Regions from separate parts of the Homo sapiens genome. Here region 1 is linked to region 2. The links come from fine-mapping of genetic effects on gene expression. A gene starts in region 2. The other region holds a variant in brackets. All regions are shown on one strand. Distances are from middle to middle.

Region 1 (10,044 bases), 49 kb before region 2:
GTCTTCTTTTATACTTTCTAGTTATTTGTTGTTACTATAATAACAATCCAATTGACTTCTATATTAATCTACCTACTCAACTTTAGTAAACTCTTATTTCTTTTTTTTTTTTGAGACAGAGTTTCCCTCTTGTTGCCCATGCTGGAGTGCAATGGCGCAATCTCAGCTCACTGCAATGTGCTTCTGTCTTTTGCTCTTGTATTGCTTGCTCTTGGAGCCTAGATGCCATTATGTGAGACAGACCAAACTGGCCCACACTGAGATATCACATGGAAAAGCCGTATGTAAGTTTTCCAACTGACTGCCTAATTAAGTTCCCAGCCAACAGCCAGCATCATATCACCAGACATATAAATGAAGATACTTTAAGATGAATCCAGCCCCTAGCCAGCAAGTCACCTCCAGTGTTCAACGTTCACATCATCCCAACTGAGGCACTGAAAAGAGTAGAGCTGTAAAAAAAAAAAAAAAAAAAAAAAAAAAAAAAAGCCTTCTTCTACATTGTCCAAGTTTCTGACCCTCAGAATTCATAAGCATAATAAAACAGCTGTTTTGTGCCATTAAATTTGGATTTGTTATACAGCAATAATAATCAGAACATGTGATAAGCATGCTTTTATCATTTCTGACTTTAAGAGAATCTTTTCATCTATCCCCATTTAGGAAGATTGCTGATGATGGTTGGTTGACTGGTTGTTTTTTAAATATTTCTTGACAGTTTAGAGATGTTCCCTCTTTTCTTAATTTGCTAAGCATTCTTATCATGAATTTATGCTGATTATCAAATGATTTTCTGTATCTATTTTAATTATACAGTTTTTCACTTTTAATCTATCAATGTAAATGTTGCTTACATTTATGGATCATTTATTAGTAAATCATCCTTGCATACCTGGGAAAAATCCAATTTGGCAATGATGTTTGTCTTCTTTAAATGTTGGTTTCAATTTGCTACTGTCCTGTTTGGGATTACCAGCTCTATATTAAAAGTGAAATACATCTGTAATTGTCATCTGTTTTGGTGTCTTCATTTGATTTGGATGTCAGGATTATGCTGGGCTTTCAGAACTTGCTGGGGAATTATCCTCTGTTTGTATTAATTTTAAAAGATTGCAACAGATTGGAATAATCTATTCCTCAAAATTTTGGTAGAGACTTATTTATTGGCAAATCACTTGGGCTTGTTGCTTTCTTTGTGGGAAGATTCAGACTTTTAATTTCTCCCTCGGTTTTTACAAGTAATATTTTCCTAGAAATGTCTATTTTTACATAGGTCACATATAATTAACAGTATTCTCATTTTCCTTTTAATCTCTGATTTATGTTATATATCTCTTTTTCATTCTTTATATATTGAATTCTGTATATGTCCATGAACTGTATTCTTCATATATTGTATACCCTTTGCTGACTTTTTTATCTACCAATAACCACAAATGTTAATTTAAAATTTCCCACTTTAATAGGAGAGGTACTAATTTACGTATACCAATCTATCAAATTTTGCTACCTGTTTGATGTTATATATTTTTGGTGAATGTAGTGAATTCTAATAATTTTATGTTGCCTTGGCATACATTTTAAACATGTTTAACTTTCTCATATCAGAAACTGGGCTTAGTCACACTCGACACAGTTTCCAGTTGTCTGCCTCCACCCAGTTCCTCTATGTTGTTGTTCCAGATATCTACCTTATACGATCGCCTCCCAGTAACCACTTCCCTATGGGACAGCTGGATACAACCTACTTGACTCACCCTACTGACTCCCATACCCTGCACGGACTGCCCAGATAAGCTGCAGTGACCATCTCTCAGTCACAGCGTGACCAAGGAAATGAAGTCTGTTTGCTGTAAACCCACTGTATTAGTCCGTTCTCACATTGCTTTAAAGAAATACCTGAGCCTGAGTAATTTATAAAGAAATGGGGTTTAATTGGCCCACGGTTCTGCAGGTTGTACAGGATTGTACAGGAAACAATGTTGGCATCTGCTTGCCTTCTGGGGAAGCCTCAGGAAACTTTCAATCATGACAGAAGGCAGAGGGGAAGCAGACACCTCTTACATGTCAGAAGTAGGAGCAAGAGGGGGGCAGGCGCTACACACTTTTAAACCAGATCTCAGGATAACTTCACTCCTTATCACAAGAACAGCACCACACAGAGGGGATGGTGCTAAACCATTCGTGAGGAACTGTCCCCATGATCCAAGCACCTCCCACCAGGCCCTACCTCCAGCACTGGGGATTACAATTTGACCTGAGATTTGGGTGAGAACACAGATCCAAACCACGTCACCCACAGTTAGAATTCCCTGCAGGGAAACTCTTTGATAACAACCTAGACCCCAATAATGGCTTTGACTCACAGGTTCCTTGCTCTCTCCCTCTCTTTCTCTCTCTCTCTCTCCCCACCCACTGGTGGAGCCTCCAAGTCCCAGATGGCTTCCCCTTTCCCATCTGGCCCTGAGAAACATGCTGCCCTCTTTTCTGTGGGATCCGTAAGTAATATACTGCTTCTGTTATTTCCTATGTTTGGTTGTGCTGCCTCCTCTGTGTCTCACCTGACCAACACATCTAAATCTAACTCCTTTCCTGGTCAGGGCTCTCCTACAGAATAGCTAACTTGTTAAGAATAAACTGGACACAAGTCAGGCAAGCGCCAAAAGGGCACCTGCCAGTATAAACAAGCTTCTTTGTTTGTAATGAGAAGGACATCTGGGTCACATGTCAAACACTTAGGCTGTCCACAGGGATAAAGAAGTATCCTGTGAAAGGCCCATTATAAGCATCATATGACCAAATCCCCTGGCACCCCCTCAGGGCAGGGCTAGAGTTTACAGCCACTTGAGAGACCTCAAGACAAAATTAGAAGAAAAATATGACAGTATATTTAATATGACAGTATATTATAACAACTTTATATGATAACAAGGTGATCAGTCCTAATATGAGTTTTTTTTGTTTCGTTTTTTTTTTTTTTTTTTTTTGAGAAGGAGTCTCGGTCTGTCGCCCACGCTGGAGTGTAATGGCGCTATATCAGCACACTGCAACCTCCGCCTCCTGGATTCCAGCAATTCTCCTGCCTCAACCTCCCAAGTAGCTGGGATTACAGGTGCCCACCACCACACTCAGCTAATTTTTGTAATTTTAGTAGAGACAGGGTTTTGCCATGTTGGCCAGGCTGATTTTGAACTCCTGACCTCAGGTGATCTGCCTGCCTCAGCCTCCCAAGTGCTGGGATTACAGGTGTGAGCCACCACGCCCCGCAAGAACACAGGTATACTTTGAGAAATTCCTCTTCTAGTAACATGCCCTAGAGAAACTCTCACACACGGATACCAAAAGTCTTGCACAAGAATATTCATGGTAACACTGTTTGCAATAGTAAACCCCACAAACAACCCAAATGCGCATCGAGAACTCTAGAGAAAGATGAGGACAGATTAGATTACCTGAGAGAGTTTTTCTTATGGTACAGGAATGAAGGAAATGATTAGCTACTCATATCCTAGAACTATTCTTCATACAAAGCAAAACTGCAAGCTGCCACTTGGGGGAAAGGCAGAAAACCCTCCCACCCTCTGAAACCAGACAAATACCAGGAGTCAGTAGATAGTACACAAATTCTACACAAACTTTTTCAGGAAAAAAGAACAGGAAATGCTTCTCAATTTACTGAAATTTGTTTTATGACCAAGGATATGGTTTATTCTGGTGAAGGTTCCATGCACATATGAAAAGAAAGCATGTTCTTTTCAATAGACAAAAGATAGAGACATTCACCAAAGAAGATATACAAAGGGGATAGCAACTAAGCAAATAAAAAGATGTTAAACATCACCAATCTTTAGAGAAATGGAAATTAAGGCCACAATGAGACACCACCACATACCTACCAGACTAGCAAAAATAAAAAGTAATGACAATACCAAATGCTGGCAAGGATGTGGAGAAAGTGGCTCTTTCAAACATTTGTGGTTTGAAAGATCCACTTTTTCTGGTGGGAATGTAAAACAGTATGATCACTTGGGAAAACAGTTGTTCAGTTTCTTTAAGAATTAAATATATACCTCCTATAAGGGCAAGCAATTGTACTCCTAGGTATTTATCCCAGGAAAATGAAAACTTATGTCCACACAAAAATCAGTACATGATTGTTCATAGCTTTGTTTGTAATAGCCAAAAACTGGAAACAACCAAAATGTCCTAAAATAGGTGAATGGTTAAACAAACTGTGCCACATCTCTACCACTGTAATACTTATCAGCTATAAAAAGGAAAGAACTACCGATACATGCAAGTTGGAGAGATTTCAAAGGTATTACACTGAGTGAAAAAAAAAAGCCAATCCCAAAAGGTCACATAATGCACGATTCCATTTATATAAAAAAAACTTTAAACGTGTCTCTTTTAAAATGTGTTTTGACTTACTGAGTTTTTCCTTCAATTGCTTTACAAATTTATCACCTATCTGCCTTAGCTTCATAACACATTAGTTTAGTATATTTTAGAAACACAAACCAATGACCTGACAGAAGAATAGGTGTTCCCATTTCAGAGAATAAATATAATTTATCTCAGTTTTTTACAGTGGGTGACAAAAATTGTGAGATAAACAAAAAGGAAAAAAAAGTCAAGAAGTAATCAATAAAACTAGACCAAGAGATAATCTATTCGTTAAAGCATTAAGACAAAAACTTTTTAAAAACTGTGATTAATACAAGAATACAGTGAAAACGGTAGAAAACATGCATAAGAGGGAATCAACAGATAAAAGGAAACTATTAGAAAGCGTAAAATGGACTTAGACCTAGTTTTACTCCTAGTAAGAAATATGGCACATGAAACCAAAGATTTATCTTTAATAACTCATGATGACACTGCAGCTTTCAGAGTAAGTATTGACAGAAATACCAATCTGATTCCAAATTTAAACATTCTGCCAATGCCTATGCAAAATTACAAAATTGTTTTATTATAAAGAAAATATATTCCACAGTTACAAGAGCTGGATATTAAATTTTAGTGTTTCTTCTAAATTTTGCTAATATTTGAGCAACACTGTTCTCCAGATTTGTCAAAACAAGATAAAAACAATTTACTATAATCCCCCCACACTGTTTTCATTTTATCTTATCTCCTTCTAGTACTCAAATAAATACATATATATTTTAATTCTACATGCAATTATAAGTTCTTTTTCATTTATTATATAGTCTATAGTTCTAAGTAACAGCCTTTATCATTGTACCCTTCATAATTGTATTATTTACCTGTGTGTTACATCCCATCAATATGACAACAATTTTTCTGGATGTAAAGTCCAAAAAGAGGAAGTTTCAGCATGAGTTTATGTTGGATACACTTTATTATATTTCCTAGCATATAATATTCCATATTACATAGTTAATAGCACAATGATGACTTCACACATTAACATTTTTCTTCTTTTAATTTAATACCTTAATATGAACTCCCAGATATAGAATGATTAGCTCAAAGAGTATGAACACTGCTTGACAGGGTTTACTGCATCACTTTCCACAGGAGCTATACTAATTAATGCCATCACATGCAATTTTTAAAAAATCTTTATACATAAACACATAAATGTTAATTTTAACTTTAAAGCATAAATTAGTAGTCATGTTTCCCTACCTCAAATACCCTCTCCAACTTCCCTCCCACAACATGACAGCTCCATCCATTTGCCCATTAAAATGGTCCAAGTTAACCATCTACTATATA[C/T]CTCTATTCTCATACATATAAAAATATGTATTCTCATATATATGTCTACATATATAATGGTGTTATCACTACATTTTTTAATTTAAGATGCCACATATATTTTTTTTTTTTTTCCGAGACAGAGTCTCGCTCTGTCACCCAGGCTGGAGTGCAATGGTGTGATCTCAGCTCACTGCAACCTCCGCCTCCTGGGTTCAAGCAATTCTCCCACCCCAGCCTTCCCGAGTAGCTGGGATTACAGATACCCACCATCATGCCCAGCTAATCTTTGTACTTTTGTAGAGATGGGGTTTCACCATTTTGGCCAGGATGATCTCGAACTTCTGACCTCAGGTGATCTGCCCATCTTGACCTCCCAAAGTGCTGGGATTACAGGCATGAGCCACTGTGCCTGGCTGCCACACACATTTTTAATTATCTTAGTTGTTCTCATGTAATAATTCCCCATGCAAATCCCACCAAGTTTACTGGTGCATATCTGATTCATTCTTTTTAATGACTACTAAGATTCTATTATGTAGATATATTATGTAGATACATAATAAATACATTCACAATTCCCCTACTGATAGACATAAATTGCATTTCCAGTTTTTGCCACTAGAAACAAATGCTCATACAGAAATGCTTATATATGGAAGTGTGTTTCTATGAGCTAGATTTCAAAGAGTAAGACTGCACGGTCAACTGGTATAAATATATTTTTTTAATTTTAATAGATATTATCAGATCACTGTCTACAAAGGCTCTAGTAACTCACATTTCTACCAGCAAAATATAAAAACTAATTCTTTCCTTAGGTTCTTGCCAATACAATGTTATTGCTGGTTCTTTTCTCTCTTTCTCTTTCTTTTCATTAAAGGTGGGGGCTGAAGGAGGCAGTATGATAGATACAAGGTTATATATCACACTAGTAAGTTAGAACATCTTTTAATATGTTGTTGGCCATTTGGACTGGCTTCTTCATATCTTTTGCTCATTTTCATATAGTGCTGTTTGTTTCCTTTTTGTCATTATCTAAGAAGTTATTATATAGAACAGATATCAACTCTGTCCTTTCTCTGCACTGTACATATTTTTACCAATTGTTTGTGTGGTATATCTTTCCATTCATGTGTTAAGTTTCATACAAATATATCTTTCTTTATAGGTTGTAGACTTACAATGGGGGTTAAGATTTTCCTCGCCCCAAGAATGTACATGATGAATGATACAGAAAACAAAAAAGGGATTGATATAGGGAAAAAATTAAGAATTAATTAGTAAAAGAGGGCTCATCTGTGGAGCTGATATTAAAGCTGTGACCCAATGTATAAGGATGTAATAATAGTAAAAAGAGTAGAGAAGTCCACATGTGAATATGTTCAAGTCAAAGGAAGAGAGGAGCCGGTCAATTAAGACGGGGATCCCTTCCTATTCTATGATTAAATATTTCAGTGATTTCAAAAATGTATATTCACACATAATAGTTTCCTGTGGCTGCTGTCACAAATTACCAAAACTTGGTGGCTGAAAACAACAGATATTTATTCTCTCACAATTCTGGAGGCCAGAAGTTCAAACTGGGCTGAAATCAAAGAGTTGGGAAGGCTGGCTCCCTCTGGAGGCTCTAGGGGAGAATCCATGCCCTGCCTGTTCCAGCTTCTGATAGCTGCTGGTATTCCTTGGTTTGTAGCCTCATCACTCTAATGTTCAAGGCTAGTATCTTCAAATCTCTTTCTACTCTATCTTCACACTGTCTTCTCTGCTGTATGTCTGTAGATTATGCCTCTGTTTATCTCTTATGAGGACACTTGTGATAGTATTTAGGACCCGCACAGATAATCTAGAATAATCTCTCCATCTCAAGACCCTTAACTTAACCATATCTTCAAAAACCCTTTTCCACACAAGGTAACACTTACAGGTTCCTAAGACCTAATATCTTTGAAGGACATTATTCTGCCTACAACAACTTTTTTTAAAAAATGTGTGTGTGTGTGTGTGTGTGTGTGTGTGTATGTGTAATACACATGTATGTATGTATTAACATAAATGGATGGGAGAAATTAAACATAACTATTAGTGAGGGATATATTTAGAGTTGCATGAAAATCAAAGAAAATAATTAAATCACTTACAATATAATATGAGATACACAAACAAAATTTTAGTGATCTATTTTCCATTTTCATTAGCATACACTACCTTACTTGTATACACTTCTACCTACAATTTTCTATAAAAGAAGTCTCTAAAAAGAGTCCCTACTATATTCAAATAAAACAGATTAAAGGGGGACATAAAATCATTAGCTTTGTAAGGGAGATAGAGATTTGAACAAATTCTTTACTTGAAATGTACCATTATATTGTTACATAAAATAAAAAAGTATTTTTAAACTATTGAAAAATAATCTCACAAACATCATACTATATACCTTTATTATACATCAAAATATATTTTTTCAACAAACTTTGAAACAAAACATTCCATAATGAAAATAAATTCTAATCTGTTTCCATAAACCCGATTTTCACATTTTACGTGGTCCTAAATTGTGGCTCGCCAGTATTTTACAGCTTTCAAACATAGTCTAGCGACTAAAAAGTGACATATTTCACCAAGTGGCTAATTTGAAGGTAACAATGACTACGCATCACTCTATATAATCTGAGACATATTTTAATATAATTTATAAACTTTTATATTTAGTATTTTGGATGCAGAGGTCTCAAATTTTATTTTATATGAAGAAAAGATATATTACCATAAAAATAACAGATACAAAATACTTTACTCGACTAAAATAATGCAAGCCAAAAAATTAAACAGAAAAAGATTACAATACAGCAATAATATTAAATTTATACATTTAATTTTATGCTGCTATTCAAAACATCTATTTATCAAATAACATAAAATCAAGTAGAAATACTCTTCACAGAAAACTGCCTCTAACTTCTAATACATAATATTTATACAAAATGGGAACAAAGTTAATGACTAGTACCAAACAATCACAAAGAGAAAGGGCATTTTCATACTTGTATTAAAAAAAATTCAACATCATCATTAATTATGTTCATTTGATATCAATTAAATAAAATATAGAGATCAAACTTTGATCTATTCTCAGCATCTAACAAAGCATGACACAAACTCAGTGAATTTTGACTAATCTTAGGAAAAGTTATATTTACTTCCAACAGCAAAGCATAGCAAGGTCTACTGAAATAAATGATTTATACTGACAATTTCAGAAAATTTTCAGTTTCTTCAGCTAGCATTCACTGGTCATGAAAAATTGTGTCACTGACAAAATGTTACTGAGAAAATCTGTCCTTTATGATTACAGATGATATAAGACACTATATTTAACAATCCAAGGTAAAATTTACCTCCTCATACACAAAAATAACACTACGCACAGCTTAAGTACCAAAAAAAAAAATACTTATAAATGTCAAATTCATTTTAAATGCTGCCTTCTCAAACATGATACTCAGACCTAGTCCACTCAACAAAATTATCTCATACTGTAGTCTAAAATGTCTGTTACCAGGAATCCAAATGGGATTTGCAGCATGCCAGAAGATTGTAACTCAAATTCATCTATACACATTACTGAGCTTCATTTTCCTCGTCTTTTTTTTTTTTTAATGCTATGCGGCATTAACTGAAACCTAATGGTGGGAGAACAAGAGTTGGATTAATAAATAGAAACTTTACAGTAGTCCTTATTATAATGAAGTTGTGCCCAGCATTCTATCCTTTGTCAGTTTTACTCTCTCTAGTTGTTTCATACTCATTTATAATTTGAATCAGTTAAATGTAGACCTATGTGTTCCTCCATAGTCTTTAACATTGACATCCACCAGAAATATTCTCAGGATTTTAAAAATAAGAATGCCATTAATTATATACACCATTTAAACCTTTGGCAGATTTTAAAAGGCCACAAATTATTTGGTGTGCCTTCTACAGAGAAGCAGTCTATGTCTCCTCCCCTTGAATGTGGGTGAGCTTTGTGGTATCTTTGACCAGTAGCATGGGTGAGATATGTGCCATTTTCTGGGCCCAGGCCTTAAGAAATAGGCACCTTCCACTTCCTGTCTTATGAATACTTAACTCTGGAGAAAACGACCCTCCATATAAGAAATTTGACTATGCTGAGACTACCATGCTGTAAAGAAGCCCAAACTAGCCATGTGGAGAGAGCACATGAAGACAGAAAACACCTAATCAAACTTGCACTCTGCCAGTTATGCAAAGACCAGCAAAATCATTCTCAAATTCCTGACTCACAAAATCATG
Region 2 (10,044 bases):
TTAAAGGTTACTGTTTACAACAGAACCAAACAACATAAAACATTTAGATACAAACATAACAAAATATGCGCAACATTTTTATGCGGAAAGCTTAAAAACAGAGAGAAATCAAAGACCAAATAAACGTAGAAAGGTTGTTTCATTTTGTTTTCTCTCTTGAAAGAGGCTCTCTCTGTTGCAGAGGCTAGAGTGCAGTGGCATGATCACAACTCACTGCAGCCTCTACCTCCCAGGCTCAATCAATCCTCCCACCTCAGCCTTCCAAGTATCAGGGACTACAGGTGCATGGCAACACACCCAGCTAATTTTTCTCATTTTTGTAGAGATGCGGTTTTGCCATGTTGTCCAAGCTGCTCTTGAACTCCTGGGCTCAAGCGATCCTCCCACCTTGACCTCCCAAAGTGCTGGGATTACAAGCATGAGCCATAGCAGTGGGACAGGAAAGGTATTTTATTAATGGATTAGAAAACAACATTTTTAAGATGTCAATTCTCCCCAAATGGATCCATAACTTCAATGCAATCATACTAAAAATTCCACAATGCTTTTATATAGAAATAAAGAGATTCTAAAATGTACATGGAAAGAAAAAGAACTCGAATACTCAAAAATTTTTGGCAAACAACAACAAAGTTGGAGGACTCAGGCTTTTTGACTTCAAGATACACTATAACGCTACCATAATAAGGACTGAGGTTTTAGCCAAACAGACGCACAGAACAATGGAACAAAATAGAGTCCACAAAGCAAACCACACAAACATACTCAACTGATTTTTAACAAGGCAAGCCAAAGAAATTTAATGAAGAAAAGATAGTAATGAGAGGTGAAGCCGGCTGGACTTCCGGGTCAGGTGGGGACTTGGAGAACTTTTCTATCTAGCTAAAGGATTGTAAATGCACCAATCAGAGTCTGTGTCTAGCTAACAGTTTGTAAACGCACCAATCAGCACTCTGTGTCTAGCTAATCGGGTAGGGGACTTGGAGAACTTTTCTGTGTAGCTAAAGGATTGTAAATGCACCAATCAGCGCTCTGTGTCTAGCTAAAGGTTTGTAAATGCACCAATCAACACTCTGGCAAAACGGACCAATCAGCACTCTGTAAAACGGACCAATCAGCACTCTGTAAAATGGACCAATCAGCTCTCTGTAAATGGACCAATCTGCAGGATGTGAGTGGGGCCAAATAAGGGAATAAAAGCAGGCCACCCGAGCCAGCAGCAGCAACCCCTTCGGGTCCCCTTCCATGCTGTGGAAGCTTTGTTCTTTCACTGTTCGCAATAAATCTTGCTGCTGCTCACTCTTTGGGTCCGCACTATCTTTATGAGCTGTAACACTCACAGTGAAGGTATGCAGCTTCACTCCTGAAGCCAGCGAGACCACGAACCCACCAGGAAGAACGAACAACTCCGGACACGCCACCTTTACGAGCTATAACAATGAGCTGCAACACCCACCACAAAGGTCTACAGCTTCACTCCTGAGGCCAGCGAGACCACAAACCCACTGGGAGGAACAAACAACTCAGGACACGCCACCTCTATGAGCTGTAACACTCACCGCAAAGGTCTGCAGCTTCACTCCTGAAGCCAGCAAGGCCACAAACCCACCAGGAGGAATGAACAATTTCGGATGCAGCTTCACTCCTGAAGCCAGCAAGGCCACAAACCCACCAGGAGGAATGAACAATTTCGGATGCGCCACCTTTAAGAGCTGTATCACTCACTGCAAAGGTCTGTGGCTTTGCTCCTGAAGTCGGCAAGACCATGGACCCACCAGAAGGAAGAAACTCCAGACACATCTGAACTTCTGGAGGAACAAACTCCGGACACACCATCTTCAAGAACTGTAACACTCACTGCGAGGGTCCGTGCCTTCATTCTTGAGGTCAGCAAGACCAAGAACCCACTGGAAGGAACCAATTCTGGACACAGTAAGAATAGTCTTTTTCAAGAGATGGTGCTGCAAGACTGGGGCATCCATACACACACACACAGAGAGAGAAAGAGAGAGAGAGAGTCTTGACCCCTACCTCACACTATATGCAAAAATTAACTCGAAATTGGTCACAGACCTAAATCTAAAATTTAAAGCTATAAAAGTTCTGGAAGAAAACATAAGAAAAAAAATCTTTGCAACGTTGGATTAGGCAAAATTTCTCATGATAAAAAAGCACAAATCATAAGAGAAAAAACTGATAAACTGGACTTCACCAAAATTTAAAACTTCTGCTCTTTGAAAGATACTGTTAAGAAAATGAAAGGACAAACTACAGACTCAGACTCGAAGGAAATGCTGTGAACATATATACGATAATGAATTTGTATCCAGACTGTATAAAACACTTGCAAACCAATAACAAACAACCCTATTAAAAACGAACAAACGATTTCAGCAGACACTTAATCAAAGAAGATACACAGATGGCAAATAATAGCACAGGAAAAGACGCTCAATATGTTAGAAGAAAAATTCAAATTAAAACATAAATGGGTTTTCACTAAACGCATATTAGAATAGCTAACATTAAAAATAAAATGACAAGTGCTGACCAGAATGTGGAGCAACTGGAACATCAAACATCACTTGCGGGAATGCAAAATGAAACAGCTACCTTGGAAAACAGTTTGGTAATTTCCTTCTTTTTTTTTTTTTTGTTTTTGAGACGGAGTTTCACTCTGTCACCAGTCTGGAGTGCAGTGGCACGATCTTAGCTCACTGTAACCTCCGACTCCCTGGTTCAAGCAGTTCTCCTGCCTCAGCCTCCTGAGTAGCTGGGATTACAGGCACCCGCAACCACGCCCAGCTAATTTTTGTATTTTTAGTAGAGACGGAGTTTCACCATGTTGACCAGGATGGTCTCAATCTCCTGACCTCGTGAGCTGCCCACCTCGGCCTCCCAAAGTGCTGGGATTACAAGTCTGAGCCACTGCGCCCAGCTGGTAATTTCTTTTAAGGTTAAACATGCACTTGCACACGGCCCAAGAATTCCATTCCTAGATGTGTAACCAAAAGAAATGAAAACATATGTCTACACAAAGACTTGCACCTTAATGTACAAAGAACAGCACATGAATGTTTACAGTACCTTCATTCCTAAATGCCAAAAATTGTTCATCAAATGGCGAATAAACATACTATGATATATTCACACAATGAAATACTACTCAGCTGTAAAAAACAACCAAGCATCAACAAACATGCATCAACATGGATGAATCAAAGCATTAAGTGAAAGAAACCTGAAACATAAGGCTACATACTGTATGATTCCATTTACATAACATACCAGAAAAGACAAAGCTATAGACAGGGACAGAGAACAGATCAGTGGTTGCTAGGACCTATGAGTGAGGGGAGGAAACTTTAGAATGATGGGAATATTATTTGTCTGGATTGTGGCAGTGGTTCCATTATATGCATTTGTCAGACTTTATACAGCAATATAATAAAAATTACTTTTTTACTTATAAATCATACCTCAATAAAACTTGATTTTTTTTAAAAAAAGCAACATATGCCCTTTTTAAAAATATGCATCAGTTTAAATGAGCTAAACCAAACTTACTGGGTATGGGAATAGGGCAGGGAGGAACAGTAAGGAGACCAAAAATCCTTAAAATACTGGAAATCTAAAATATTAATTTATCGTTAGTAAATAAGAAACAGATATACATAAACACCAAGAGTTAATCCAAAGAGAGATGCCTTTTTCAATTAAGTTCTCATTGTTTGGACAGAAAATAAGAAAATTTGATAAACTTTCAAGGAAGATTAAAAATCACAAGGAACAGGTTGACAAAGGAGTGCTGTAATTATGACCTACAGTTTGGGAACAACTTATCTAAAACATTCCCCTTCCATTTTACTTAATGGAACCAGTCTTATCCACCCATCCACTCTACTCCACTCCCACTCCGTCTTCTACTATCTTCATTCATAACAATCATATGTAATGCATACATCTGACACATATAGATAAGAGTACAACATAAAATGCCTATTACACCAAATTCCTGTTTGTCCATTTAAGCTCCAGACAAGCTCATTTTTAAACGTCTTTTTTCTCTATTTTAATGCCACCCAAAACCAAAGTGATGTCCCTCTGGAATGATTTTCTGCAGTTTCTTTTGTGTGTTATTAAGTACTAAGATGATCAAAATAAACAAAAATGTCTCAGAAGTTTTGAGTGGATCACTCCAATAAGAAGCTACATTTTTCCATTTAATAAAAGTTAAGAGGTAAGTTGTAACTTTCATCACTTTGTTTTCTTTATGTTTATTCCATTGGGCTTATACTGTTGCTAGGAAACCAGTTCATAAGATTTCCCAGCCCACAGAACACCCTCCTAGGCAGCCTGGAGGATACCAAACTTCGTAACCAGGGCAATTCTCTACCACACAGTTTACTGGTTAGCCAACACCATGCAGGTGCACTCTGCCTGGCATGACCCTTACTACATTTACCTAATAGGTACAGACAGTATAACCAATCCCCTCAACGCAATAGAAATTGTAGCAGAGGGCAATCAGGTGATCATTAAGTGTAGAACTCTCCGACAGCAGGGAACACAACAGCGAATTTGTTGTCAGTCCCTGTCACCCCACCCAACTAAATATTGTGGGGGGGGGAAGGGTTGCCTTAAATTGTGAAGTAAAATGTCAGCCCACTCCAATAACTCCACCACGCAACATGCAAACTGCTTCCAAAAACCATCATCCAACTCCCACCCGGATTAATATTTGGAGAGAAAGGTGGCATCAGTATCCGCACAGCTGAGAGGGGAGGGAAGGAAAGAGTCAGAATTCATAAGGGGCCGCTGAGTCACCTAAAATTGTGGCCAAGACTTTACCCTCCAGGAAATCGAGCTCTGCCCCAACTCTCATCAAGGAAGCAAGTGAGAGTAGCAGCAGCAACATCATCCTACCAAAAAAACACCAGCGCAGCTTTTAATAGAGTTCCACTCCTTAAAGTGAAGCCAAAAATAGGTTTCATGTCCAAAGCTTTCCTCCGCAGTAGGCGACACGCGCAGATGGAGAAAATATCTTTATTGTTGGGAAAGGGAGGCGTGCTAACGGGGACGAAGGATACCTCACCACTTGGCAAAGTTACTGGCTCCTGCCTTGACCCTGAAATGCCACTTTTATTGCAACATGTGGCCCAAGAAACTCTAAGGAAATGTGGCTGGCAGACGCTGTAGAGCTTTTACCCCAATGTACTTGGCAAAGTAAAAGGGGATACATAAACCAGGCGCGTTCTGTGTAATCTAAGCAAGAATCAAGGTCTCCGTTCGGTAGGCGCTTCGGTGACACAATAATCACGTGTTCGTGGGCGTAGACTTTCGAAAACACTCGATTCTGGGACGTGCAGATACCGGTACCCACCGGCGAGCGCAGGAACGAGTGGGCACTCCCACCCCCGGGAGCTGGCTCCGTTCCCGCAGGAGGTTGGTCACGCCCCCTGACTCCTGGTCGCTGCGACAGCCAAGGGCGAGGCCGCAGCAGGCGGGCTGCAGGCGGCGGAAGCTCGTCCGCGCTCCTCCCCCGGTGGGGCGCTCTCCGCTCGCCTCGCGCGGCCCCGACCCCAAGACCCAGGCCCCGGAAGGCGAGCGTTCACTTACCTGCTCCCCTCTCTCGCTCTCCGCTGCCGCCGCTGCGCCGCTCACCCACGCTGCCCGGTGAGCCACCCCCAGCACACAGACCCCTACGCGTACACCCGAGGCACGGCCCCAGGCCCTTGAGGGGAGACCGCGGCCCAGCCACACAGGTTGGGGTAGCCCACGCACCACCCGGCTTCGAACACCTCTGCCCCCGGAAGTTGATTTCCGCCAAGGCCCGCCCAACACAGCGCCCGTCACTCAACGTAAACACGCGCGTCACGTGGCCCCAGGCCGAGGCCCGGGTCGGGGCCCCATGTTCAGAGCCCTGCCACCCCAGCTTGAGCGTGGTCTTTGGAGCGTTGCCCTGTGAAAAGGGGTGACTTTGCCATGCTCCTTCCCAGTCTACCTCCTGTTAGTTACAGTTTCTCATTCCTCTTGAGTAGCAGGCCCTGTTTCTCCACCTAATCCCTGCAAGTAAACCGTCCCCCAAATCAAAATGAGTTCCATCTGGAACTTTGTAGGATTGGTCCTAAGAAGATCCCGCCGAATCTCTTCACCACTTCCTAGCAGAGCACAGTAAAACCGGGGACTAAGCAAAGTGGCTGACATGTAGTAAGTGCTCAAGAAATGGATGTTGACTAGATGCTACCTCTCATCTTTGCCTGTCTGAACTCTCAAGCACCGGATGCAAGTAGACTGAGAGCCTCCGCCAACCAGTAAGATGACTTTGGTCAAAGAATTCTGCTCTAGAGTTACTTTTGTTCTTGTCTTCAACTCCAGATCACAGCAATTCATACGTGCCATCTCTGTTGCAGAGTTTTCTTGCAAAGCCTTTCTTAAAAGCTTTCTGTCAAATAGCTTGTCCTGAAGCAATAGGAAAAGAATAGCGTAATTCACAGATTATTTATTTGAAAGGAAGGAATGATTATATAGATGTCTTTGTCCATTTCAGACTGTCAATAGCGATGAGAGAAACAGTCAACTAGCAGTCCACTCGTGAATGTTTCTTCTGTTTTTGCCATGGAAGGATTTTGAAGAACATTCATTCAACAAATTTTTATTGATTGTATACCACATACCTAGTCCTGGGCCAAGTTTTGACAATTCAAGAGTGAGCAAGGTAACACTCAAGATATTTGTCTTCAAGAAGCTTACAGTCTAGTGAGAAAGAAAGACACTAACCTGGGGACTTTGAGCATAAATCTCTGGAATATTCACATTCCTTGTATAACAAGTATTCTTTCATCCTTGGACACTGGGTTTCTCATCTGTTGAACAAAATTGGCTTAAACCTGTAATCTCTGTTCTGTACTGGAAGTGGAAAATATTAGCAAGGCATCCTGACAAGTCTGCCATAAGTGCTGGCCTAAGTAGTTAATGAGCAGTTTCAGTATTGAGCAAGTCACCTTGACTACATTCTTTTTCCAGCCCACCCCCTTCTTTATGCATACAAAAAACATTTCTATTGTAAGAAATGTAATGCTTTCTTACACATATTTTTTTATCTGTCTACTAGACTACCAAGTCAAGGACCACTTCTCACTTGTATATCCAGCAATCTACTCACTTCTCATTTGTCTTTGTGTATCCAGCAGTCTAGCAAAGTGTCTAGTAGTTAGAAAAAAGGTATTCATAAATATTTCTTAAACTTAGTAAGGTTACCTTTATATTATTTTGTCTCTCATATCTCTTTCTGCTGGAAACCAGATTAGTTTCTGGGAGTTCCTTCCCATTGATGTACTTACATGTTCACTCTGTCCCGATATTCAATACTAAACTGTATTCCATACTAAACAGATTTATAATAAGTAACTAATATTTATTATTAATATTTGCTATGTGCCTGGCATTAGATTAAATATTTTAAATCCCATATATAACTTACCACAATAATTTTACAAAGTAGGTATATTAATATATTTACACTTTAGATGAGGTTACAGATTTAGGAAGTGTAAATTGACCAAGTGGATTTAAAGCCAGATCTGCCCAACAGAAGGGCTTGTTTATTCACTATAGCACATCACTTTGCTTTTTATATCACTTATTTATCAGTGAATTCAAATCCTACCAACTCCATGAAATCTTTCTTCCTTCCCCACAGTAATCTTTTTCTTTATAAACAATTCAGTGATTTTAGTATATTCACAGAGTTATGCATGCTTTACCACATTCGATTTTAGAGTATTTTCACAGCCCCAAAAAGAAACCCCATACCCTTTGGCCCCAACTTCTCCCTCCTCTCCCCAGCCCTAGGCAACCAGTAATCCACTTTCCGTCTGTATGCATTTGTCTATCTTGAACATTTCATATAAATGGAATCATGCAATGTGTGGTCTTTTGTGACTGGCTTCTTTCACTTAACATGTTTTCAAAGTCCCTTCATCGGTTGGGTTGTTTCAGCTTTTTGAATATTATGAATAATGCTCCTGTTGACATTCATGTACAAGTTTTCGTGTCAACATATGTTCTCATTTCTCTTGGATATATACCTAAGAGTGGAATTGCGGGGTCATATGGTAACTCTATGTTTAACCCCTTGTGGAACTACCACACTGTTTTCCAAAGTGGCTGTACCATTTTACTTTCTCACCAGCAATGTATGAGGGCTCTAATTTCTCTATTGTGCCTTTTCTTGTCTCTCTAGAACATGTGCCTCTCTTACTTTTCAGAATACTTTTTCCATGAGCCATCTTCAATTATTATTCTTTGTTGTACATGTATCTGCAAGCCCATTTTCCTAATAGTTTGTGACCTTCTGAGATGAAAAACATGGTGCCTGCCCTTAAGAGAATCACATCTAGAAAAATATACAATCAAATCAGATATTACAGTGATAATAAACACTGAAATAAAGGTTATTGCTAAAAGGTGGAGAAAGAACACCTCACTCAGCCTAGGTTAAACAGGAAGTACTTCTCATAGAATGTATCAAAGCTCAGGATTAGTCCTGAAGAATCTATTGGAATTGACCAAGCTAAGGAAAGACATGAGTATGCTCCAGAAAAAGGAACATATACCTTTGTATATATTTCCTTGTCTATGAACTGTGGAGGTAAGTATATTTTGCAGGTAAGCATACCATAGAAGCAAACATTGTGGTATGCAGGTATGCAGCAGGAGAAATGGGAAATGTAGATGTAAGATGATGAAGAGTTTTGTAAACTGTGTTAAGGAGTTTGAACTGTATCCTGAAGGTAATGGGAAATTGCTGAATTAGTTAAGCAAGGTTGGAGAAGAATTACTTCAGCAGCAGTATAGAGGAAGGATTATTGGGTAGGAGAGACGGGGCCAAGACTAGAAAAACAAACAAACCAGATAGAAGACATAAAATAACTAAAATGAGGAATTAATGACTGCCTGAGCCGAGATGGTACCCATGAAATTGGCAGAAAGGATTTTAAAGGCACATGGCCAACAAAAAAGGAGGAAAGAAGCCAGTCACGGTGGCTTATACGTGTAACCCCAGCAATGTGGGAGGCTGAGGTAGGAGGATCACTGGAGCCTGGGAGGTGGAGGCTGCAGTGAGCTGTGATTGTGCCACTGCATTCCAGCTGGATGACAGAGCAAGACCCTTTCAAAAAAAAAAAAAAAAGGAGGAGTAAGAAGAAGAAGAAAGAATTGAAGATATATTCCAGGTTTCTGGCTGTAGTCATCAAGAGGAAGATTGGGCACTTGGTGATAAGAATAATGAAACACTACAATGATGGTATCTTAGTTTGTTCAGGCTGCTATAGAAAAATACTGGGTAGCTTATGAATGCAAATTTATTTCTCACAGGTCTGGAGTCTAAGAAGTTCAAGATTAAGACACCAGCAGATTGGATGTCTAGTGGGGCCCTGCTTTCTGGGTCATAGATTGTGCCTTCTAGCTGTGTCCTCATGTGGTGGAAGAGACAGGGCGGCTCTCTGGAGCCTCTTTTATAAGGGCAGTAATCCTAGTCATGAGGCTTGTGTCCTCATGATTTAATCACCTCCCAAAGGCCCCACCTCCTAACGCTATCTCATTGGTGATTAAGTTTAACATATGAATTGTGGGGGGACAAAAACATTCAGACCACAGCAGATAGGTTGCAGGAATTTAAACTGCCATTGAAGTTTATGTGCTGTTGCAGTCACCCACAGAAATGAGATGAACCCTCACCCAAACTTTGGCTCCTATTTCAAGACTTAGCATACCACATATGCACCAACAGGGTATAAAAAGGTTTATTACTCACATAATGAGCCTTTCTAGGAAGAGTACAGCAGACCTCCTAAGCAGGTTTTAAAATGACTTGAGAGAGTAGGAGAAAAAGCTATTGGGATTTTTTTCATGGCTAGGACATGGCGCTTGGGTGAAAAAGCCCACACAGGGCAGGGACTGTATGGCTCAAATTTTCCACCAGCACCAAAATAGGAAATACCTATTTTGCACCATATTTGGATCTAGGCAAGCTTTCTCATC

Evidence for each region. PIP is the estimated chance that this variant, and not a neighbour inherited with it, causes the effect.
Region 1: its variant is fine-mapped to the expression of CCDC91 in whole blood (INTERVAL, PIP 0.96).

What each region holds. Positions count from the first base shown.
Region 1 is chr12:28,234,939-28,244,982 of GRCh38, reverse strand. All of the region lies in intron 1 of CCDC91 (coiled-coil domain containing 91), which reads right to left. Among named protein-coding and RNA genes, the nearest start is that of CCDC91, 50 kb to the right of the region's middle. The variant C/T (reference allele first, on the strand shown) is at 5,749.
Region 2 is chr12:28,186,217-28,196,260 of GRCh38, reverse strand. CCDC91 (coiled-coil domain containing 91) reads right to left here and starts at 5,805. Exons shown (of 13, transcript NM_018318.5): 1 at 5,620-5,805. It overlaps LOC729291 (a long non-coding RNA gene), which reads left to right and starts at 5,523. Exons shown (of 1, transcript NR_148936.1): 1 at 5,523-10,044. RefSeq lists silencers at 4,351-4,645, 5,329-5,758, 5,789-5,838.